Linked DNA regions of Homo sapiens. The protein of the gene in region 5 purifies or fractionates together with the protein of the main gene of each other region. This does not show direct contact. Each region holds a gene or a part of one and is shown on either strand. Other genes may lie near its edges. The genes, in order: TACC3, SAPCD2, ZNF664, YAP1, MPDZ, MAPK9 and WASF1.

Evidence for each region.
Region 1: the proteins of MPDZ (region 5) and TACC3 purify together in Homo sapiens (affinity purification with mass spectrometry; one large-scale study listed by BioGRID and IntAct). This does not show direct contact.
Region 2: the proteins of MPDZ (region 5) and SAPCD2 purify together in Homo sapiens (affinity purification with mass spectrometry; one large-scale study listed by BioGRID and IntAct). This does not show direct contact.
Region 3: the proteins of MPDZ (region 5) and ZNF664 purify together in Homo sapiens (affinity purification with mass spectrometry; one large-scale study listed by BioGRID and IntAct). This does not show direct contact.
Region 4: the proteins of MPDZ (region 5) and YAP1 purify together in Homo sapiens (affinity purification with mass spectrometry; 6 studies listed by BioGRID and IntAct, with this or other methods). This does not show direct contact.
Region 6: the proteins of MPDZ (region 5) and MAPK9 purify together in Homo sapiens (affinity purification with mass spectrometry; one large-scale study listed by BioGRID and IntAct). This does not show direct contact.
Region 7: the proteins of MPDZ (region 5) and WASF1 purify together in Homo sapiens (affinity purification with mass spectrometry; one large-scale study listed by BioGRID and IntAct). This does not show direct contact.

What each region holds. Positions count from the first base shown.
Region 1 is NC_000004.12:1,738,521-1,742,020, reverse strand, and holds part of TACC3 (transforming acidic coiled-coil-containing protein 3), read right to left. Parts: exon of another isoform or gene 2,323-3,500; coding exon of another isoform or gene 2,320-2,322; coding exon 2,243-2,319; exon of another isoform or gene 2,063-2,242; coding exon 2,019-2,062; exon of another isoform or gene 1,540-2,018; coding exon of another isoform or gene 1,460-1,539; exon of another isoform or gene 1,196-1,459; coding exon 1,035-1,195; intron 1-1,034. UniProt on the Homo sapiens protein: Plays a role in the microtubule-dependent coupling of the nucleus and the centrosome. Involved in the processes that regulate centrosome-mediated interkinetic nuclear migration (INM) of neural progenitors.
Region 2 is NC_000009.12:137,064,593-137,067,557, forward strand, and holds part of SAPCD2 (suppressor APC domain-containing protein 2), read right to left. Parts: intron 1,783-2,965; coding exon 1,670-1,782; intron 1,077-1,669; coding exon 930-1,076; intron 594-929; coding exon 486-593; intron 388-485; coding exon 271-387; intron 196-270; coding exon 67-195; 3' UTR 1-66. UniProt on the Homo sapiens protein: Plays a role in planar mitotic spindle orientation in retinal progenitor cells (RPCs) and promotes the production of symmetric terminal divisions. Negatively regulates the mitotic apical cortex localization of GPSM2.
Region 3 is NC_000012.12:123,976,215-123,979,714, reverse strand, and holds part of ZNF664 (zinc finger protein 664), read right to left. Parts: intron 1-3,500. UniProt on the Homo sapiens protein: May be involved in transcriptional regulation.
Region 4 is NC_000011.10:102,116,947-102,120,446, reverse strand, and holds part of YAP1 (transcriptional coactivator YAP1), read right to left. Parts: intron 1-3,500. UniProt on the Homo sapiens protein: Transcriptional regulator with dual roles as a coactivator and corepressor. Critical downstream regulatory target in the Hippo signaling pathway, crucial for organ size control and tumor suppression by restricting proliferation and promoting apoptosis.
Region 5 is NC_000009.12:13,105,207-13,108,692, reverse strand, and holds the end of MPDZ (multiple PDZ domain protein), read left to right. Parts: intron 1-1,581; coding exon 1,582-1,728; 3' UTR 1,729-2,986; downstream 2,987-3,486. UniProt on the Homo sapiens protein: Member of the NMDAR signaling complex that may play a role in control of AMPAR potentiation and synaptic plasticity in excitatory synapses. Promotes clustering of HT2RC at the cell surface.
Region 6 is NC_000005.10:180,247,084-180,250,583, reverse strand, and holds part of MAPK9 (mitogen-activated protein kinase 9), read left to right. Parts: intron 1-1,445; coding exon 1,446-1,611; intron 1,612-2,657; coding exon of another isoform or gene 2,658-2,729; intron 2,730-2,855; coding exon of another isoform or gene 2,856-2,884; exon of another isoform or gene 2,885-2,921; intron 2,922-3,073; coding exon 3,074-3,145; coding exon of another isoform or gene 3,146-3,186; exon of another isoform or gene 3,187-3,500. UniProt on the Homo sapiens protein: Serine/threonine-protein kinase involved in various processes such as cell proliferation, differentiation, migration, transformation and programmed cell death.
Region 7 is NC_000006.12:110,099,671-110,103,170, forward strand, and holds the end of WASF1 (actin-binding protein WASF1), read right to left. Parts: intron 2,547-3,500; coding exon 1,918-2,546; intron 1,010-1,917; coding exon 852-1,009; 3' UTR 149-851; downstream 1-148.

The DNA.
Region 1 (3,500 bases), on a different chromosome or scaffold from region 5:
CGGGCTCAAATGATCCTCCCACCTCAGCCTCCCTAGTAGCTGGGACCACAGGTGTACATCACCATGCCTCACTCTAATAACGGGTCTGATTTTCACTCATGTTTCCTGTTCCTTTCACACTTGGTTATTCTGTGCCAGACACTAATTTAAAACTGCAGCAGCAATTTAAAGCATAAGATACCTTCTTCCCTAGAGTATTCAGGCTTGCTTCTGTTAGGCAGCTGGGCCCCAGCCACTGACACCCACCTGACTTCAGGACTCAGATGAGGTGTGGCTCAGCAGGCCCTGCAAGGGCCGCTTTTCCAGTTTAGTCTGACTCCCAGGGGACCCATCTGGTGTCCCCAACCCCCTTGCACCAACAGTGACAGCCCCTCTTCCAGCTGCACCTGCAGGTCCAGCTCCTCCACAGGAGGCGTTGAGCACCTCCGCTCCAACATTGCTGCTGTGGGCAGAACCCTCTGGCGGCCTCGCAGGCACCTTCCAGGCCTGCTCTGGGCAGATGGATGGCCCAGACATCCCTCCTTCCAGCAAGCATGTGGGCCTTGCCCAGCACAGAAGGTGGGGGGCGCTCAGAGTCCCGTGGCCAGGAGGACACCAGGGTGGCCTTGCACAGCCGTGACCACCTTTCAGTGGGCCTCCCGCCTTGGATACTGCATGCCCTGGGTCCCCAACCCTTGGGACCCAAGCGCTCGGACAGCCCAGACACCTTTCCGAGGTGCCCCAGGCCCCGGTGCACCAGCGCTGTCTCAAATCTCACAGATGCCTGATCATAGCCGAGTCGTCTGTCACACAACAGCGGACGGCTCAGATGGCCTCCCTGCTCACTCTGCCTCCTGCCGCCCTCAGCTGCCTCGCAAACCAGCTATGCTGTGACTCCTGCACCCTGTCTCGTTCACAGGTCATCCCATGCCCCCGTGGCAAGGGGAGGCTTGGCCAAGGACCAAGGTGCAAAGACAGCAGCTTGTAGCCCCGCTGGCTTGGACCATGAGTCCATCAGCCTCCGAGGTGAGGACACCAGGGTGGCGGAGACATACCTTGCGGTAGCCCTCGATCACCTCTTTCTGTTTCTCAAAACGCTTGAAGAGGTCGGAGAAGGACTTCTCCATGGAGTTCAGATCTGTGGTAAGTTGGTCTTTTTCTTTTAGAACTTTCTGGATTTCAGCTTTGGAAAGTTCCTTCTGCTTCTGAACTTCCTCTTGAGAAAAGAAAAGCAAACGTTCAGGATGAGGAGGCAACCGAAACGATGGGTGCCAGAGACAGCCCAAGGAATGAGGCAAGGGACTCGAGCGCCAGGAGGAGAGGTGGGCAGTGGGTGTGAGCCTCGGAGGGTGATGGGTCCCTCCACCCAGGATCTTCTAGGCCGGATGCAAAGCCCAGGAAACAGCTGTTTCCTCCACATCAGATCCGCAGGGAACTGGAGCCTGGGCCAGAGGTCCCTGAAGAGGCGGCGCCCAACACCCTAGAGCCTAGGGTGAGGCCTGGGAGCCGGTATGGCGAGCTCCAGGATGTGCGTCGTGCTTCGTGGTGGTCCTGGAGGGACTGCAAGGGCCAGGCGGTCACCTGCCGCCGGCTGACACTCAGCCTAAGACAGATCCCCACAGTAGCACCTCCAGGAGCCCAAGCTTTTGGGAGGCCAGATGAGGCCTGGTGTTCCCGTCCTGCCAGACACCTACAGAGGCTGCTGCTAGACATAGCCGCACGGCGAGGGCAGGGTGGAGTGGGGTAGGCCACGGCGGGACAGACTCTGCTCCCACCACAGCCCCACTGCTAGCTCAGCATCTGCACAACTGTGGGGCCTGCCAAGCCCTGGCTCCGTGGGAGCCACCAGCCTCACTACCACCAGCTTCCCCGCAACTCGCCTCAGTGCTTCCACGGCCGGGCCCATGTTGAAGGGACTCGTGTGTTAGGAAAAGGGGCCTCAGGAGGGTGGGGTCCTAGGCAGGGTGCAGGGCAGGGCCAGGGTGGGGCATAGGCAGCCCCTCGTGGAGGCACGTGGCCTCGGTGGCCCGGGCACTCACCCATGGCCTGGTACACAACCTCTTCGAACCTGTCCATGATCTTCCTGTGGGAGGAGAACAGACACACAGCCATTGCCTCGGGTGCCCAGCGGTCCCAGGCCAGGTGGGGATGGGGACGGGGACAGGGATGGCGAGGGGGATGGGGACAAGGATGGCGAGGGGGATGGGGACAAGGATGGCGAGGGGGATGGGGACGGGGAGGACAGGAGACGGGGCCTCCTTACCCCAGTTCCAGGTTCTTCCCGTGGAGCTCCTCACACCTGCTCCTCAGCTCCCGGTTCTCCTCCTGTGTCGCCTTTACCTGCTCAGGCCACACCCAAGTCAGCAGGCAGGCGGGCCAGACTGACCCTCCCAGGACCTCCCCACAGGATGGGGCCAGCCCGCACCCGAGGTCCCTGGAGCAATGTCCCAGAGGCACAGTTCCATGTGGGGCTTCCAGTGGGACCCTGGGAACCCTGTCGAGGCCAAGGCCACCTGCTCCACGTGCACCCGACTGCCAGGGGGCAGGAGGCATGAGGCTGCTGGCTGTGCTCCTGGGTGGAACCAGCAGGCACCCAACAGGTGTGTGTCCCTGCAGCTGCCCCCGCAGCCCAGTGGCAGATACTAGGGGTCCTAAGTGTTAAATATAGTGAACTCCAAGTTTGTCTTCAAAGAATCAGTAAGTCAGTATGTTCAGATCTCTTTTTTTTTTTTTGAGACAAGAGTCTCACTCTGTCGCCCAGGCTGGAGTGCAGTCACGTGATCTCTGCTTGCTGCAAGCTCCGCCTCCCGGGTTCAAGCCATTGTCTTGCTTCGGCCTCCCGAGTAGGTGGGACTACAGGTGCCCACCACCACGCCCGGCTAATTTTTGTATTTTTTAGTAGAGACAGGGTTTCACCGTGTTAGCCAGGATGGTCTCCATCTCTTGACCTCGTGATCCGCCCACCTCGGCCTCCCAAAGTACTGGGATTACAGGCGTGACCCACTGCACCCGGCCAGATCTCTTCTTTGATTCTCCATTTAAAATTCCTGGTTCTCTTCGCCCCTTGCTTCTAGTTTCAGTAAACAATTTTCCCGCCAGTCCTAATCAGTAGTTCACATCTGTTCCCTGGTCACCTGCTCCATCCTGACTCATCCCGGTCACCTGCTCTGACCTAAGTCACCTTGAGTTACCTGTTCCTAACCGTCCTTCCCGTCAAACTACTCACCCCACCACTCTGACTCTTACCCTGCCCTCTTTAAAATAGCCAATTGGAATTGGCTTAGACTGTGTGGTCCAACCTTAGCCAACAGGGGAACAACACAGCAGTAGGGCTACCTGTGTCAGGAATAAGAACCCCTTCCCCTCCCTTGTTCAGGTGTGCTCTTGCCATTGCTCCATCTGCGAGGGGCACCCTTTCTGCAGAAAGTAAAAACTGCCTTGCTGAGAAAATTAATGTTCGAGCACTATTTCTTTGTGGCACCAGAGAACAAGCATTGTGCATTTCTAACATAAGTTACATG
Region 2 (2,965 bases), about 120 Mb from region 5:
TGGGGCGCCCACCCTCGAAGGGCTGAGTGCCAGGCTGGCCCTGGGGGCCCACGCGGCCCACAAGGACTAGATGAAGGTGGAATCCAGAGGTCCCCCGTCCTGCTGGCTCAGGGCGCGGGCCTCAAACAGCTGCTTAATGAGCGCCGACTTCTCCTGCTCCAGCTGCGTGATGCGCTCACTCTTCTCGGTCACCTCCTGGGCAGGTGCACAGTTGGTCAAGGCCTGCGGGGCCTCACCCCCACCCCTGCACCCCTCCCGCGCCTGCCCTACCTGGGTGAGGAGTCGGTTCTGCTCCTTCAGCATGAGGATGGTCTGCTGCTGCCAGACCGGGGGTGAGGTGGACGTCAGGGCAGGGCAGGGGGGCCCGGAGGAGGACGGGGGCAGGGCCTGCGGGAGGGCAGGATTAGGCAGGCCTGGACGAGGGCGGGGAAGCACTAAACTGGCCTGGGCCCCAGCGTGGGTGTGGGGGTTTGGGGTACACTCACCCGGCTGGCACAGGCTGCAGCCAGCAGCTCCCCCAGGCACCGGGCCACCTCTTGTACCTTGGGCAGTAGCCGCCCCAGTGGGCGGGGGCTCCCTGCAGCCCCAAAGTCCTGGGAAGAAAGCAGAGGACAAGCGGTCAGAGAGGAGGTCCAGCCGGGGCCAGCAAGGTGCCTTGATAGGGGTTCCCACAGGTGGCTCTCCTGCCTCCTGATGCTGCAGAGAGCCTAGAGGGTCCCAGGGGCATTGCTGAGGTGGGAGGTCTGCCCAAGACACCTTAGGCCCTAGGAGTGGGGCAGCCACAGGCGGAGAAAGGGATGTCTCAGCATCCTGGGTGGAATCGACAGCCACTGTGTCCGGGAATAGGGGCAGCCACAATGCCCAAGGGTGCCTGGGGTGAGCTGGGGTCCCCATGTGTGGGGATCTGGGGACAGGGCTGTGGCACTCACGGCGCTGGCTCTGCTCTGGCCCAGGCGGCGCTGGCGCTCCTGCACTCGTTGCAGCTGCTGCTGGTACCAGTCGCGGCCCCGCGCCATCATCTCCAAACCCTGCAGCAGCACCTCCTTCTCCTGCTCCAGCTCCTTCATCTGCTTCAGCTGCAATACGTGCATTTACATGGAATGCCTGGCCCCAGTGAGCACGCACACGTCCACACATGCATGAGCTCACCTGTGGGTGGGCACCAGAGCCACAGACACAAATGCAGCAGCACGTGTACACGTTTGCAAACACCCACGGACGCACGCTTCTGCTGACACCTGCATGTGTGAGCCCCATAGGCCCATTTGGAGCAGGAGCCCCGTTCCTCCTGCTGAGGGGTCTTGGCCTTTCTTAGCCCCTCCACTCAGGCTTCCCTGGGGGAGGGGTGACGGACCCTTCAGCTGAGCCCACCCTCCCGAAGTCTGCCTGTGGTGAGCACACAGCTGGGAAGCCAGACTGGCTTGCAGCAGCAACCTCGTGAGGCGGGCTGGGCAGCCACCATAGCTGCCCTAAACGACCTCTTGACCTCCCTCTGCCTGACCCTGGGCCATCCCTCCAGGGGAGTCAAGCCCAGGTAGGGAGAGAGATGTCCAGAGCTGACTGTACTTCCGCCATGGACTCCCCCAGGCTCAAGGCCCCCCTGCTCCCATCCCGGCCTCCAGCCTCCAGGCAAGATGGAGAGCCCCACAGAGCCCCAGTCCCTGCTCACCAGGCCGCAGTCCACGCCGCTGGCGATGGTGTGCCTCCGACGTTCCCCTCGGGCACGGGGAGCCCGCCGGGCATCCCCTGAGTCCGCCTCCAGGGCCCTGCACGCCACTGCACCTGTTATGGAGAGGCATGGGCCTGGCTCACCTCCAGACCTGCCTGGCCAGGCTCTGCTGAGGTGCAGCGGCCTCCACATCTCAGCCCACCCTCGAGGTCTCGGGCACCAGCCTGGCATGGCCCACGTGTAGCCTCTGTGCCAGGCTGGAGTTTGGTCCCTCTCCCCTTTCCAGCTCCTCACACTGGCTTGGGGAGGGCTGTGCCGCCAAGCCCGCATGTTTGCTCAAACACACACCCTGCCCCCTCATCGGTCCGTGAGCTCTCTGGGGCCAGAGGCCTTATCCAGCTCTCTTCTGCACACCCAGTGCCCAGAACATGGCAGGCACACCCTGGGTCTCCAAGGCAGCTGGGTAAGGGAGGAGTGGGCGGGGGGGTTCTGGTCCTGACTACGCCTCTCCCATCTGCACGGGGTCCTGCAAGGCAGCAGGAGATGTGGGTGTGAATGACGGAAACCTAACTTTTCCCAGGATGGTGACTCTGATAGAAAGTTAGTCCCGCATGGCCGGGCACAGTGGCTCACGCCTGTAATCCCAGCACTTTTGGGGACCAAGGCGGGTGGATCGCTTGAGCTCAGGAGTTTGAGACCAGCCTGGGCAACATGGCAAAACCCCATTTCTTCCTTTTTTTCTTGAGACGTTGTTTTGTTCCTGTTGCCCAGGCTGGAGTGCAATGGTATGATCTTGGCTCACTGCAACCTCCGCCTCCCAGGTTCAAGTGATTCTCCGGTCTCAGCCTCCCGAGTAGCTGGGATTACAGACACCCACTACCATGCCCAGCTACTTTTTGTATTTTTTAGTAGAGATGAGGTTTCACCATGTTGACCAGGCTGGTCCTGAACTCCTGACCTCAGGTGATCCACCCACCTCAGCCTCCCAAAGTGCTGGAATTACAGGCGTGAGCCACTGTGCCCGGCCGGCAATACCCCATTTCTATTAGAAACACAAAAATTAGCCTGGTGCAGTGGCATGCACCTGTGGTCCCGGCTACTCAGGAGCCTGAGGCAGGAGGATTGCTTGAGCCTGGGAGGCAGAGGTTCCACTGAGCCCAGATTGCGCCACTGCACTCCAGGCTGGGCAACACAGCAAAACTTTGTCTCAAAAAAAAAAAAGATCCCTTGCCGGGCACGGTGGCTCACACCTGTAATCCCAGCACTTTGGGAAGCTGGGGCGGGGGGGGATCAGTT
Region 3 (3,500 bases), on a different chromosome or scaffold from region 5:
AGAGCAAGACCCTGTCTCAAAACAAAACAAACAAAAAATCCCACAAAAAACAAAACGCTACTTGATATTCCACAGTATATGGGTACCAAAATTTATTGTGATTATCTTCAATTTTTCATTATAAATGACGCTGCAATAGACATTGTTTATATTAACGTATGTTCTCCTATGAAAATAGCACAGATTCCTTGAAGTGTAGCTGCTAAATCAACGTGTACTTTTATTTTGATAAAATTCTGCCAAAATTGCCATCTAAAAACTTGGAAAAATTTTATGTCCCAACAATGTATTAGGTGCCTCTTTTACATCGCTGGATAGTTTTTAATTTTTGCCTGATGCCCTCCTCCCAACAAAAAAATCTAGTTTTTAAATTTCCATTCTCTTAATCACAATGAGGTTGAATTTCTCTTCACTGTTTGAACACATTTATCTAAGAACTATTCATATCCTCAATTCATTACCTAATTTGTTAATTCTATTTATTCTTTATACATGCTACAGGTTGTTTTCCCAGTCTGTCACTCTGTAACGCTTTTTGTCACAGAATTATCAACTGTGATTATAGTCAAATTTATCAATCCTTTCATTTATGATTTTAGGTCTTGGTCTTACCTAAATGGCCTACCTAAAACACATCATTTCCAGTGTATCCTTCTACATAACAAATTCTCTTATATTTCCTTCTAATGCTTTTATAGGTTTTTTTAGTTAGTTCCTTAATCCATCTAAGTTATTTTGAATGTGAAGTAGGATCTTTCTTTCTAAATAAAGAGCCACTTATCCCTATACAACACACTGAATTATAATTTCCCAACTGTTGCAAAACACCAACTTTATCATATACTAAATTCTGATATAAAAATGGGTCTGTTACTGGATTCTACTTTGCTCCAGGCGTCAATCTGTCTATTCTTGTGTTCACCATTTATATTACTGCAGCATTTCAGTATGCTTTGACTTCTCATATAGCAAATCCCCCAACACTACTTTTCCATTAAAAACGTTTGTCATTTTTTGGCCATTCTAGGACATTTACTCCTATAAAAGAGTTTTAGAAGCAATTTATCTAGTGTCCAGAAGAATTCCCACTGGGATTTCAATTGTAATTACATTGAAATCATAGTTTAATTTGGAGGTACTGCAATCTACAATGATGCCTTCCCCTCCAGGAACAAGTCTGCCCATTTATTTAGGTTAGCTTTTAAATCATTTAGGTAAAAGTTTTTACTTCTCTTCATAAAGCTTTGGTACATTTATGTCTTACTTGTAAATGTTTTCTAGTTTTGCTGCTATTCAGAACAGAATCTAACTTTTCTATACGGTAATTAGTGATTTGATTATTAATGAATTACACAGCTTTTCCAATGTTTCACAAGTTATATTTCTATCCAGCGAACTGTCTATTCACATCCTATAACCACCTGTGTGTGGATCTTCATTATTTTCTTCACCAATTTGGATGAGTTCTTTGCATATTGAAAATACTAACTCTTAGCTTATCATTTGCCACAAATATTTTCCACTTTATGATTCGGGTTTTTTTTTTCCCTTCTCTTCCTAAAGAATAAATTTTTATGTAGTCTAATACACTAATTTTTAATTATTATTTTCTCTATTGTTTCTAATAGCAGCAGCTACTTACAGATTTGAGTGCCCTGTAGGTGCCTGGCCCTTTATCTCTTACTCTCATAACACCTGCAAAGTGGGGATAATTTTCCTCACTTAAAAGATTCCAGTTTAGACACATCTGAGTCTAAAGCATGTGCTCCATCCACCTTAGCATGTAAAACTCCTCTTTCCAGATGTTTAATATTTACTTACATTTTCTTTAGACTCAGGGGGCATTTGTGATGATTTCATTATTATTTATGACATTTCCATATAAAAAAGTTTATTTCTGGGGTGCTGAATAAGTTCCATTGACCTGTATGGATATTTTACAGCCAGAACGATACTGTTTTAATGAATGTGGCTCTATAATATGTTTAAATATATTTGTCTCACCTCATTACTCATAAGTATTCTACCACGTTCACCCCAAAATGAGCATCTCCATAACATGCAGACATCACAGCCCGGAAGATGGCCTCTCTTTCCGTTCAAGGTACCCCTTCAGACCTTTCAGGATACTTTATGGTCTCCTCCACAGAGTGCACACTTGACTCTATAAGGTTGTGCCTACACGGTTCACTTGTTTTGCTGCAACCTGGTCAGAGCCAGTTTCTTGTTTAGGGTTTTTTTTTTTTTTTTTTGGCCATTTTAGGTTCTAGTAGGTTATTTCTGGTATTCAGAAAGCTATTAATTTTATACATATACTAATACATGGTCACTCCATCAATTTTTTTGTCTAATAATTTTTGTTATTGTTTTCATAGTCAATAGCATCTACAAATATTTCCCTTCATTTTAGAGCCTCACTTCACTCCTATCTCACATATTACCGCTTTGTCAAAACATACAAACCTTGTTAAATAATGTCCCAATTTTTAATTTGACTCTCTGATACTTTTAAGTATAGACAACTAGTTTAACATTTATGTGTACTTTTTGCATACCAAGTACCTTTTTATTGCTTTTATTTATCCCCACTTCTTAAAAATTAGAAACAAGGATTTGTGGGGGTTTTGTTTGTTTTGTGAGACAGTCTCCCTCTGTTGCCCAGGCTGGAGTGCAGTGGCATGATCTCCGCTCACTGCAAGCTCCACCTCCCGGGTTCACGCCATTCTCCTGCCTCAGCCTCCCGAGTAGCTGGGAATACGGGTGCCTGCCACCACGCCCAGCTAATTTTTTGTATTTTTAGTAGAGACAGGGTTTCACCGTGTTAGCCAGGATGGTCTCGGTCTCCTGACCTCATGATCCACCTGCCTCCCAAAGTGCTGGGATTACAGGTGTGAGCCACTGTGCATGGCCAGGATCTTTTTTTTTTTTAATCAAACATTGATTTGACCTTAGTGTAGCTGGTAACGTGAGGTCAATGTGAATTCCAAGGGAAAGCTCACGTCTCTTCCAGGCAGCCCTCTGAGATGGCCAACCTGGTCTCCCCACTTCTACTCTCCACCCCCAACACGCCCCCACATCTTGCATGCAACGACTAGAGTGGCTGTTTAAAGATACAAATCTGATTATGTCACTCCTCTTCGTAAATCCCAACCCATATCATGGTTTCCCATTTCACTCGGGATAAAATACAACCACTTTAACCTGCCCTACATGACCCTACTTGATCTGGCCCCTGGCCTAGCCACTCTTCCCCTTCACCTCCATAGTCTATCCACATTCATTCTTTCAGTTCCTGGAATGGGCAAAGCTTTTTCCCCACTTTGAGGCCTTCCCACATGCTGTTCCTCTGCCTGGAAAATTATCCCCCACTTTCCTCCACACTAACACCTACGCACTCTTCAAATCTCAGCTTAAATCTTATTTATACAGAAAAGTCTTTCCTAGGCCCCTTCTCTCCACTCTAAAATTTGGTCTCCCCTTTTTTATACTCCCTCATAGCA
Region 4 (3,500 bases), on a different chromosome or scaffold from region 5:
GCCATTTGCACTATTTTATTAATTTGCAACATCATTCAAAGAAACAACAGACTATCACTTGGTTGGTGTGTTTAAAAATTATGATTCTTCTCATGCTAGGAGCAAAATGAGGATTAAATACTGACCATTTTCCTTGTCTAGAATATTAAAGGGGAGGTGGGGAGGACTGCTGTGATTTAAACCAAACTTCTTTGTTTGCATTTAGAAGGGGTCAAGCCCTACGTAAATAAAAGTGCTTCCACGGTGGCAGTACTTGTTCCCAGGAAACTTGGTGCTACAGCACTTGAGCAACCAGAACCATGAAGCAATTCTTCTTCATAGAAACGGCAATGTCCCTTTCATGGCTTGTAGTTCTGATTAATCCTAGAATCAGAAGCCCTTTTTGTAAGAAGTGCATCACCTAGTAACCACAGTTATAGAACGACACAGCTCTTTAAGACCTCCCTTTATACAATGCTACTCAGCTATTATTAAAAACTTTCAAGCCACAATTAATGGCTAAATTATGCTATTACAGAGGGTAGCATTAAGTTTGAATAATCTTAAATCTTAGCAACTGATTTTTAAAATGACTTCACTTTGATTGGTCCTAAGCTTAAATTTCTATATATATTTTGGCAATAAAACAGTTTAGAGTTTACCTCCCCTCAAAGCCTTAAGGTACAAGGCAATGCAGAGTCATGATACCCTGAGTATTTTAAGCTGTGAATTCACATTATTTTTCTAACTACAAAGTAAAATATTTCTCTACATAACTAAAGAGGACTTATTTTAGGGTTGTAAAAACCTGGGTTTTTTTTTTTTCCAAGTTTCAACTATTTAAATGCTATCTAGATGTTTGGGTTTTTTTTTAATGGCTAAGATAAAGCTTTAGGAAAGGGTATTTTTTTTTAAATGTGACTTTAAAAAGAAAATTAGCCTACCACCTTGCAGTCAATTGAGTCTGCTACATTTAAACTTCCAGAGATAGTTCTAGAATTCTTTCTAGAACTAAGAATCATAATTTTTAAACACACCAAGTGACAGTCTGTTCTTTGAATGATGCTGCAAATTAATTAAATAATGCAAAGAAGTTCTAGTGAACTTCTTTCTTAGTTCACACTAAAAAAATTCCATTATTTTTCCCAGGGAATATGTTAATCTCTATGTTCTATTTACTCTGTCACATCTACTATCTTCCAACTGTTTTTCTTCTGCCACTGGTGAATACAGTTTCTCCAGGGTTCTCTCCCTAAATCACTGTGGCACTGTGTGCCATTCTTCCCTGGGATGCCCACCCACTGAGCAGAAGTAAGCTCTCCCCCACCCCCCAGAGCTAAGGGCGTACTTTCATCTTCTCTCTCCACTCAGCCTCAATAGCAAGACAAACAAGCAGAGACTGGCCTTCCCTCAAATAGGGAAATACTTCGTGATTGCAATTTGAACTGGTTTTTTGTTTGTGTATACATGTGCACGTGTGCAACTTAACATTTAATGGCAAAATTACAAGCTTTTCAGTTTTAAAGGGAAACTCTGGGTTATACTTGATACAGAAAGAAACAGTATAGCCTTATTCTTCATGAAACTTCCTTTTAAAGAGGCATAATCTTTATTATGAAGATACACTGTATATGTTCTGTATACAATGTATAAATACCAGGTACACTGTATATGATAACAACATACACTGTATATGTTCATAGTCTTTTTTTTTTTTGAGATAGAGTCTGGCTCTGTCGCCCAGGCTGGTGTGGAGTGGTGCAATCTCAACTCACTGCAGCCTCCACCTGCCAGGTTCAAGCAATTCTCCTGCCTCAGTCTCCTGATTAGCTGGGACAATAGGTGTGCGCCAACACACCCGGCTAATTTTTGTATTTTTGTAGAGATGGGGCAGGAGAATCACGCGAACCCAGGAGGCAGAGGTTGCAGTGAGTTGAGATCGTGCCACTGCACTCCAGCCTGGTCAACAGAGCAAGACTCTGTCTCAAAAAAAAAAAAAAAAGGAAAGAAAGAAAAAAGAATCAGCCTATGTATAGCGATCAATCACATCTACAAGGCAAATTAATATAGGAATATGGGTAGTTTTATGCCATGCAATGTCAAAAATCTCTGAAAAACATATCCTTTTTAAATTGTATACCAAGCTACTCAATATAACTTAATCAAATCACAGCCACAAAAAACCTTGAATCTTCGCAGACTAAAAACATTGTGGCCAGTTATTCAGAAAATGATAAACAATGGAAATGAAACAAAACTGTGCTTTAAAAATTATTAGAACATTATTAAAACAATGCAAATGTACAAACTTTTAAAATCACTGATCCAGATTCCTTAAATCAAATTATAAGGTCCTACATGGTACATTATATATAAGAACACATATCTTTGAACATGGTAATAGTTATAAGGCATCAGAGTCAATAAAATAAACTTGCAAGTAAAACACTCCTTGAAACCAGAGATATTATAGAATACTGAGTCAGGAAGTTATTCAGCAGCTTATAAAGAAATAGGAAGTTGTTGACCAACTACTTGAAGAACTATTTCCTGTAGGAAAACCGTAAGACAGCTGAAGAAGGTAATAACTCTCAGAGTCATAAAGAGAATGAATTCTTTTAAAATGAAAGCTCAATACGATGGTAAAGAAAATAGTTTTGAATAGTAAATGTAGTAGAACAAATATTATATGGCTAAGCCTTGTTTACATACTTCACATTCATCCCAGAGCTTGAAAACAAGCCACTGATAAATGTAACTAGCACCATACTTCCACCGTATCACTTGCCAAAGTAAGGTATGAGTCTCCTCCACAAGATCTCACTGACCTAAGGAGGGCTTTAAAACAACGAATGATTGCCTGCTTATAATCTTTCAGTAATCATGCTGCCTGGAAACTAGATGATAGGCCAACTAACTTCAAAAACTCAATCATCTATGGTCACAAGGCCAACAACTGGGTTGTTTCTTAACATTTCTAAGTTTTTTCTCAAATTACATCGTCTTGCCTGTCTGGACCATTTATAGTCAGGTTCTTCATGCCAAATATAAATCTCAATAAGTTATAGACTTTGTAACTTAAAAGTCAGTTCCAACAAATATCTAAAAAGATGCATTAAAATAAAATGTTTCATTGCGGAAACAAGTGTAAGGCAACTAATTTAAATCTTCATTCTACATCTGATGACAACAACACTCCTCTTTAGATACAAGAGGAAAGTATATAAATATTGATTACAAAGACAGCCCTATTTTAAAACATCAAAACTAGGATAAAAATGAACTTTGACAACAGAAACTTGGCACCAAAAGCTTAGTTTATCATCATCTTTGACTAATGGTTAGGATATTAATCTCATTTGTCTGTTCAGTACACAAAAAGAAGTTGTAACAACTATACGGTCCATAACATCATGGAAGTAGCTAACTGGAGAAGGTGAAATAATCTTATTTCATAACTTTTCTCCAAATTGCATAATGTTCATAAAGCAGATACTCTTTAAAATACAAAATTTTATAAG
Region 5 (3,486 bases):
ATTAATGAACTTTGGTTAGTAAAGCCTATTTTTTTTTCTTTGAACACAAATTGCACATGATCGTCTTTTGAAAATGGGACATTTTAAATAAGTATGCTGTAGAGCACTGGTATTTCTGTTTGCATTTTTTTGTTGTGAAATATAAAATAGTTATAGAGAAGTACATAAAGTACACATGAAAATTAATAAGCATTTATTTTATAAATTTAATTTCATTGAATAAAACAAAAATAACTACTGAAAAAATGTAGGGAGTATCCAGCAGCCCTATCATCTATAATAAGTCAGCGATTTGCAATCAAGGGATTCAATTAAAAAGACTGTATAGTTATAATTATATAATACCTATTCTAGCTTAAGAAGGTTTAGAATAAGAATAAAGATATTGCAGTACTGGTAAAGCTATTAAAATAATTTAAACCCATGTAATTATTGTTAATATGTTAAGTCGTTTTTCAGGGGCTACAAAATTCGACAAGATTTTCTGCAGGGAAAAATTTAGAATCTCAAAATTTTACAGTGTCAAAAGAAACAAAACTTAGTCAAACGTGTTTAAAAATTTGATACAGGGCCTTTGGATTAGTGGTATAGTTCTTTATGGATATTTTATTTTATTATTTTGGAAAAGATCTTTTTTTTAGCCAATTTAAAGTGTTGTACCTACAACAAGCTAGCTATAGGCTTAATTTATAAGATTTTTAAAAAAGCTATCGGTATGTCCAAAAATACAAACAGCATTTGCTAGTGAATAGAAGAGTCATACAGTCCTTTTCCTCAGCCTAGGAACAATTTATTTAAGGCATGCTAGTTAGAACATATTTTAAGAATTTCATCATTATGGATTCCTCATTAACTTTTCCATATTTTTAATTTTATATTTAATTGCATAATTGTCTTCTATAAGCGTGCTTTAAGATGGGGTTCTTTTTCTAACACCAATGTCTGTATTTAATCTTAATCATTTAGGGTCCATAAGGAATATGAAGAATCTCTCTACCCTTGGGAAGTAAGAACTAAGACAGCTTGAATAGCTTTTTCAAAACCACAAAAAGAAATAGCAGTGGGTTTTAAATTTAGAACTTATGCCTTATCCTGCCATAGGGAATGTTCAGGTGGCTTTGTGCTTTTGCAGACCTTTGGATTTTGTCATCCCCCAAGCCCTTGTCCTGTAAAACTGTTTTTGTTCCTACCTAATCCTTTACCTTCTTTCTGTAGGTCTTATTTACAGGATAGAAAATCCTGGATTCTATTGAATCATTCCTACTAGGCAAATTCCCAAATATTCTTTATTAATTTGTGTTCCCACCAACTGCTGTGCTGAACAGCCAAAAACCCATCCAACTGATCTATCGACTGCTAAATTCTCTCTCAAATTGGTATCTCAATGCTAAAACCATTTAGGAGAAAGACCTTCTTTGTCTATGTTCATCATTGCTTAATGGCTTAGAGCACCCATGGAGCACTGGGAGCAGTGTGTGTGTACAAGCAGAGCAATTTACATTCCTGTTGAGATCTTTTTCTGTTGTGAGTTGCAAGGCAGCATTTTTTGAGAAATAAACAAGTCTACTTTATAATTTGCAGGGAGCAGCCTCTGAAGACGGACGTCTGAAAAGGGGCGATCAGATCATTGCTGTCAATGGGCAGAGTCTAGAAGGAGTCACCCATGAAGAAGCTGTTGCCATCCTTAAACGGACAAAAGGCACTGTCACTTTGATGGTTCTCTCTTGAATTGGCTGCCAGAATTGAACCAACCCAACCCCTAGCTCACCTCCTACTGTAAAGAGAATGCACTGGTCCTGACAATTTTTATGCTGTGTTCAGCCGGGTCTTCAAAACTGTAGGGGGGAAATAACACTTAAGTTTCTTTTTCTCATCTAGAAATGCTTTCCTTACTGACAACCTAACATCATTTTTCTTTTCTTCTTGCATTTTGTGAACTTAAAGAGAAGGAATATTTGTGTAGGTGAATCTCGTTTTTATTTGTGGAGATATCTAATGTTTTGTAGTCACATGGGCAAGAATTATTACATGCTAAGCTGGTTAGTATAAAGAAAGATAATTCTAAAGCTAACCAAAGAAAATGGCTTCAGTAAATTAGGATGAAAAATGAAAATATAAAATAAAGAAGAAAATCTCGGGGAGTTTAAAAAAAATGCCTCAATTTGGCAATCTACCTCCTCTCCCCACCCCAAACTAAAAAAAGAAAAAAAGGTTTTCTAATGAAAATCTTTAAAAATACTGTCAGTATTTTAAAATTTTCAACAGTATTATAAAAACATTGCATCTCCCCACCTCTAATATGCATATATATTTTTCCTGCTAAAATTGGTTTCTACAATTGAGTAAATGGCAAATACATGAAGCAATGTCCCTAAATTTTATAAAGAAATTATATTTAATGCACATTTCAATTTTCATTCTTATTTTTGACCTTTTGTAAAATATTTTCATGTTGCTATAAGTAAATGATGATGCCACCCCATGTTGACTATGGTTTTTCTAGAAAGCAACTATGCTGCTAACCATAGAGGAACATAGAAGGGTTCCAGAATCTTTAGTGCTGGTTTTAACAACCGATGCAACATTAAAAATGTGTTAGTGTGCTGTGCAATTGGTTTTCAATTCATATTAATCTTAATGACAGAGAACAATGTGTTACTAATTATTTTGGTTGTATGCCATTAGTAAATTGATAGAAAAATTAAGGGGATTAACATAACTTCATTTCATTGACTTATATTAACATCTTATAATACAATAGTTTAAGACTAAGGGAAACAGATGGAGCTGTTTATTGAGACAACTGGTGAGGAATTATCATGTGTTCATTCCCATTTTAGAGCGTGAAACTCCTACATTAGAATATATAAAGTCACTTTAAATATCTATATTTGTAACAGAAGTAGTGTACAGATATTTTATTACAGCATTTTTGTGTAAATGCAGAATTAAAGTGAATAAATAAGAATTTTCAGTGGTGCACAAATAAGCAGCAAGCATTTTTTTTGTTCTTTTTACTGTGGAAAAGCTTTGTTATATACTGTTCAAGATTTACAACTTAAAATTGGTTTTTATCATGTCTAACTGCACATATGGTGTCCATAGTTACAGCTAAAGGAACTTTGGACAACATCATTATGGAAAGCTTAATATTTTTTACCTCCACAATTTTTTCTAGCACTAAAGATTCATAGACTCCTCATAGATGAGAGGAAGATGACATTGTAGAAAGAGAAGTATCCTGCCTGTATATGTTTTTCTCAAATGCTGTTAATGCAGTAATATTGTAAGTTGCTCTTTTGTGTGGTCAAGAACTATTCAAGTGTATTCAGATGGACAAAATCATAATCAAAATTATTTGTATTAATAAACATGACAAGTCCAACTTGAACACTGAGCAAGGAATGAGGGGAACTCTGTTCTACTAGTTTTGTACCAAATTAGCTAACAAACGTGCATTTCCCTCTCATTCATCTTATCTGTAAA
Region 6 (3,500 bases), on a different chromosome or scaffold from region 5:
ATGCCGCCTGCAACCCCCCTTGTGGCCCATCAGTTGGGGTGTCTTACAGGCAGGTGCTAGGCAGTGCTACTGAACCTGCAACTTCCTGGGTAAAGTATCCTCATGCCTTACGCCATGTCAGTGGCTTGGCAGTTTGACATTGCAGGTGCACTACTCTTGTGAAAAGAATGGGTGTGGGTTGTTTACAAGTCACAGTTTCTCAAGTGAGTTTGCAGGCCGAAGTCCCCAGGCAAAAGTCAAATTCCTAAGGCCTGAGGAAGGGGCTAGGGTGGAGGATCAGCAGGAAGAAAATCCCTTAGTTATGAGGGAAAAGGTTGCAGAAGTTGTGTTAAGGCTTTGCAAGTCAGGTGGAATATGATGCATGTCTTCATTCTGCAGACACTTCCCAAGTGTCTGCTCGCGCCAGGCGTGCTTCTGAGTGCTGAGAGCTCACACAGAGTCAGCACTGGGGAGGGAAGAGAGGTGGCAACCAGAACATGAGCAGGTGAGTTTTTGTGCCACGTACAGATGGAGACAGCAGCACCAGTGCTGGCGTGTCTTTGTGGCGAAGGTGAGAAGATTGGAGGTGGATGATCATGGAATTGCTCTTCCAAGGAGAGAAAGAGCCATGGGAAGATTCCAGGATCAGACGATTCTAGACCTGTGCTGTCCAGTATGGCAGCCACTAACCACAGGAGGCTGTGGAGCACTCAGGATGTGGCCGTGCTGCAGTTGTAAAATACATACTGGACTTCAAAGGCTCAGTACTAAAAAGAGAATGTAAAATATCTCAGTATTTTTCTTATGTTGATTACATTTTGAAATGATAATATTATGGATATATTGGGTTAAAAAAATATACTGTATGATTAAAATTAATTTCACCTATTTCTGCATGCTGTTGAGCATGGCTAGTAGAAAATGTAAATTATACACATCGTTCGCATTATATGACATTGTCTGTGGGACAGCACTGCCCTGGACTGACAGACAGCATGAGGACCTTAGCAAGAGAGAGTCAGAGTATTGGGGAACTCAAGTCCAGGCGTGGAGAGCAGGAGGGGGCCGTGTGTGCTGGACTGACAGCATGAGGACCTTAGCAAGAGAGAGTCAGAGTATTGGGGAACTCAAGTCCAGGCGTGGAGAGCGGGAGGGGGGCATGTGTGCTGGACGTGTAGATGCATGGATGGAGGGTAGATAGGACAGCCTGAGGGCCTGCGAGACCACAGAAAGGGCAAATGGGGGCCATGAAGGTTTCCACTGGGGGTAAGGGGCACCATCTGACGGCTTTAGGCTGATTTGTTTTAGTTTCAATTTGAGAGTAAGATTTTCCAAAGTTGTTCCCAAATCTCAGAGTTCAGTTCACTCCCTACACTCTCACACTGGCTTCACGACCCTCACGGATGTGAAGTAGTTTATTTAGCATGCTTCATTCATTTTACTAATTTAAGCCATTTCTTTCCTAGGATTTGAAGCCTAGCAACATTGTTGTGAAATCAGACTGCACCCTGAAGATCCTTGACTTTGGCCTGGCCCGGACAGCGTGCACTAACTTCATGATGACCCCTTACGTGGTGACACGGTACTACCGGGCGCCCGAAGTCATCCTGGGTATGGGCTACAAAGAGAACGGTGAGTATAGCCGGGGCTGGAAGAGGCTGGGATGTTTAGAAATTGCTCTAGCGGTGGTCTCGAGTTTTTTCTCTTTCCTTTGAACCATATGATATATACTGTGGGGACTGTTACACCCAGAATATAGCATGATCCAGAGATAAGAAATAATTAATTGTGTTTTTCCATTGGTTAAAATCATTCTCTTTTAAAAATTCACTTTTAAAATTGTTATTTTTGAACTTTTTAATCAGAGTTAAGCTGTCTATAGCCAAGTGTGCAAATCCTGAGTGTGCAGCTCAGCTGAGGTGAGCACACCCACAGCAGCAGCAGCTCTGGCCTCCCCATGGCCCCTCCTCGCAGCCCACGAGGCTGGCCAATCTCCTGATCTCCAGTACCATGGATCAGCTTTATTTGTTGGTCTGCATATTGTTTTTTTGAATTTGATGTAAATAGAATAACACATGTTTTCATGTAAAATTGGTGTCTTTTTACATCAAAACTTAGCTTATTCTAGCAATATCAGAGCTCTTTGAAACTTGGCTTTTAGCAAATTTGTTGAAAATAACGAAATCACGCTTACTTATTTTTAAAAAGACTGAAAGTTTGCCCGGGTCATCTGAAATGAGTTTTGCTACAGGTTCATCTTGCTGCGTTGTAGCTTGTGTTCCCACCCTGAGGGGCACAGCTTCATGTGCTTCCTGTGGAGGGGAGAGAAAACTTGATCCCCTGTTCACTTCTCCCCTCGGCCCGCCAGCAGGGCACTTAGAGGCCTCTGCTGTCTGTCTGAGGCCCCACAGATGAGGGTGGGCACCGTGGAAGTCTGGGCCCCTCTAGCAGGGCCTCACCTGCAGTCCTGCAAGCCAGCCAGCCTGTGCCGCCAGTGAGTGCTGCTGCCTTTCTGACGGGGCAGTCTAGAAAATGATCGCTCAGGAGGTGTGGTATCAACAACGCACAGAGGCTCCCGCCGGCAAGCTAGTGACGTGTACCGGGTTTGTCCTGGGAGGGGGTTTGAAGAAAAAAGATGGGGGACTCTAGCTGGTTTTTAATCCCCTGGTGTTTGGTAGTGGACATCTGGTCTGTCGGGTGCATCATGGCAGAAATGGTCCTCCATAAAGTCCTGTTCCCGGGAAGAGACTGTATCCTTCACAGGGGACCCGGTACTTGGCCATGGAGGCTGGGGTGGGCGTGTGGCCCTGAAAAGCTTTGTGTTCACAGGCACTTCTTGTTTCTGGTTTTTTGTTTGTTTGTTTGTTTGTTTTAAGCTATAAAGTATTGGACTCTTTGGCACTAAAACCCCAGATTGCTACAAACCGAAGGCTAAAATAGAGGTCAGCAATCATTCATATTGTGTAAAATGTCACCCTTAGCTAGCAATTTATTTTTCCATATTTGTGTGTTTAGTGCACTGTTAGAATTCCTTTTCCTCACTTTTGTTTTGTTCATGGCACTTCATAATTTTATCATTTCATTTTATTTTCAGTTGATATCTGGTCAGTGGGTTGCATCATGGGAGAGCTGGTGAAAGGTTGTGTGATATTCCAAGGCACTGACCGTATCCTTCCCCGCGACCTTGGCCCCGCCATGCTTTCTTAATGCCTCAGGCAGCATGACCACCTGCTTACACGAGCGCTCACGAGGACAAAGTCGTAAAATCCACTCCAGACTGTGTTCTAAGGGGGGCTTTACTGTATTTGTTAATTAGTGTCACAAGCCAAGTGGTTCAATTTCATTCTTTATTTTTAACTTGACTACCTGTGATGACTTTGAGACTTAGAGTTCAGTTAAACCGATTATATTAGCTCTTAATTTTGCCAAAAATAGCTGGACACATAGAAGAAATTATTTACTCTTTGATAAGTATATTCTGATATTTAAATGAAAATACTGTATTATTTAGTTTATTCCGT
Region 7 (3,500 bases), on a different chromosome or scaffold from region 5:
CTTACACAGTAGACAATATGAAGCTGTGCAATTAAGAGGAAATTATGTAGCCTAAGTGTTTTTCAAATTTTCATTCACTATTTAAAGCCTACCATACAGTATTTGATAAATTATGATAAATCATTTTATTCAAAGAGCAACACTGATGAACTTTTAAAATGAACCATTTATTAAATCAGACTGTTATTCTTAACAGTTATGTAAGTTACATGTATGTTTAAGTCAGAGTATTTCACATGGAAAAGTTTTTAACTCCTATAGGCAAGCAAAATCATATCACACAATATATAAGTGGGAAGGGGATACTGCTAAACATTCAAATAAGGCAAGTATATAAAAACAATAAAACAATAATGAAAAAATTCAAGCATTCCTTTAAGAGAATTCAACACTACAAGCTAAATGTACTTTCTGAGTGTATTCGTATAATCAAGGCAGTGTTTCTTCTTTTAAAACATCAGGAAATGGAATAAGGCTCATTAGTAGACACAGCTGCCCTCAAGATTTCAATTTCAGTTGCTTTCTTTAAATTAAAATTCACAAAGTACACAATTAAGATATATCAAAAAACTGAATCTGCTACTCTAACAACAGCTGTCCATGCTTAATACTTAGTGGTTTATTTGACCAAATTAGTCTTTTCAGGGGGAAAAAAAAGATAAGCCACTGTAAAACATTTAGTTTGAAATGTATGCTAATATTTTCCTTAGAAATCAAAAGTTATGGAGGAAAAGGGTCATTTATTATAAGGAAAAGAAAGCAAAACACTAGAATGACCAAACATTTTCAAGGAACAAGCACCACAAAGGACATTTGCATTCAGTTTTGTAATATTTATCAATGCATTTTTCTTACTCCAACCAATCTACTTCATCAAATTCTGAATCATCTTCCGAATCACTATATTCAACAGCAATACGGCGAGACAGGATGGTGGCAACATCGTTTTCAATGCGTTCATGCTTAGCTTCCTGTTCACGCTGCTCTTCTACTTTGCGTAGCTGAATACCTGATACAGTGAATCCAAACCATTCATTTAAATCAAAATACTAGATACTAGATATTATTAATATTTCTGGAATAAAATCAAATACACATGAGAAATACTTATAGGAAAATAAAAAGATCAGAAAAGAATGTGAAGAAATCATACTGAGAGAGGCATTAAATCTTTATGTTATCTGTGTTATTAGTTGGTAAAACTTACCAGATATCCCAGTAGGTATCTACAGTTTATTTATCCATCATGGTCTACTATACCTCCCTGCTCACCACCCCCTAAAAAATTAATGAGGTGGTACATTTCTTCTATCACCTCAATGGTCAAATAAATTAAACATTGTTGAATATATTTTCTGTGGCTTCATTATCCATTGTATTTGAGGGAAAGGCACTATTATTCATTCTATATGCTCAGTGCCTGGCCTATAGTCATTGCTTAGGAAATAATGACAATAAATGAATGAATATGAGAAGTCTTTCCTTTGTTACTAAGGGAGGAAACTCACTCCTCTAAAGGCATCTGGTAGAGCAAGTGTCATGGATACCCAAAATGAACAGCCTTAACATTGAAGAAAATACCATTTTTAAAGGAGTTAATATACACATTAAGCATAATATAAAGGGTTTTAATTAAATGTTCTATAACATTTAAGTCTGATATATTAAATTTCTCATTCACTCAATAAACATTTTAAGGATACCTACAAAGCATGAAAATAAAATGGTCAAATGTGATATATTTTCTGGAAAATAATTTTAAATATAAGTTGGATATAGCTTTACTTTCTAAAGGCCATTTGTACACAAACATGATCACCTAAAATTTTATAGATAAGGAACACATTTTTGTCTTAAATATTTAGAAAGTTTCCAATGCTACTATAGCAATGCTTTTCATGGAGCTGAGAAAATTACCTTTTCGTATTGCTTCCAGTAGCACACTCCTGGCATCACTGATTACAGGTAGGGTTGATGGATGGCGCTTTGGCTCAGAAGCAGGTATAACTTGTGATGGAGGAGATGGAGGCATTAATGGAACATGGGGACCTGGGGCAGTAGATGGAGTTGGATGTAGCCCAGAGGGAGGATGAGCAAGAGCTGTAACTGTGACAGGTGATGATGGTCGAATGCCAGGTGGAGGCAGAGGAGGCGGTGGTGGGGGTGGAGGCAGCCCCTGAACTTCACCTTGTGGGAGTGGATGAACTGGTACAGTCTCACATACTGGGGCAGCTCTAGCTACTGGTGGAGAGGGCTGTACTAGAGGAGGTGCAATTGGAGGAGGAGCTGGGTGAAGAACTCCAGGGGCAATCTGAAGAGGAGCTGGAGGTGGTGGTACTGCTGGAGCTTGCAAAGCAGTGGCTGGAGGTGGAGGTGGGGGAGGTACTGGAGGGGGAGGAGTTGAAGTCATTGAAGCTCTTAATGAGGAAGTTGACAAGGCAGATGGAAGAGGTGGTGGAGGAGGTGGGGGAGTGGGGCTCACAAACACAGGTGTTCTGCCTGTAGCTGGTGACTGAGGGCGATTTTCTATCAAACCTGTAGCAGAACTGAAATGACAAAGAGATTCTAGCAAGTTATTAAAAGAGAAAAGCCTAAAGAGAAAATCTAACCACACAAACTATAAATGACTATCAGTAATTATATCAAAATGGATCCAATAACATGCTCCTATAGAAATTTAACATCTTCAACAGTATTTAGAAAAAAAAAAAGAACTAAAAGCACATCAATAAAAAAATTAATGAGTGGTGCTTTGGTTTGTAATAGTCTAAATAGTCTCATTCTCTCATGCAACTTTGGCATCCACTCAGATATTTTATGCTTACTTTAATAAATAAAATGCTCAATTCTATACTGACAGGAGTCTCTATAATGACTCAACATTGATCATAATGCAATTTTGTGGCAATACATGTGGCCAATACAATGCTATATTTATACTGAAACTATGAAGTCTCATCATATGCTATTTCAGTTAAATCAATGACAGCTAATTACAAACCACAAAAAGAAATTTACAGCTCTCTCTTTTCCTGAGGATGGAACACCAAATGAGTCAGTGATAGAAAATTGGATTTTTAACTGAAAATTGTAAAGCTGATCTCTATATCTCTATTAGAAAATTTCCCTAATATTTCTCTATTAGAAATTTATCATTTGGATAATAACTGACAAGATTAAACTTCAAAATAGCTTTACTGAAAGATTATTATAAGCAACTGCCAATCCTCTCTGAAATTCTTTAAGTATTTTCCTTAATACCAAATTAGTATTAATAATCACATCTTTGGTTCCCATTTCTTAGACTGTTACCCACATTCCAAAAAATCCTTAATTTTTCTTAATACACTGCACATGATATGCTTGATAACAACACTATAATAAAATGAAACAGGCTTTAATCTTTAAATTCTTATTAGCTAAATTTTCCTAGGAGAGTGTGTCAGCTCTAACCAGAAGATTACAAATAATGTCCCACAGACCAAATCTGACCTGCTCCC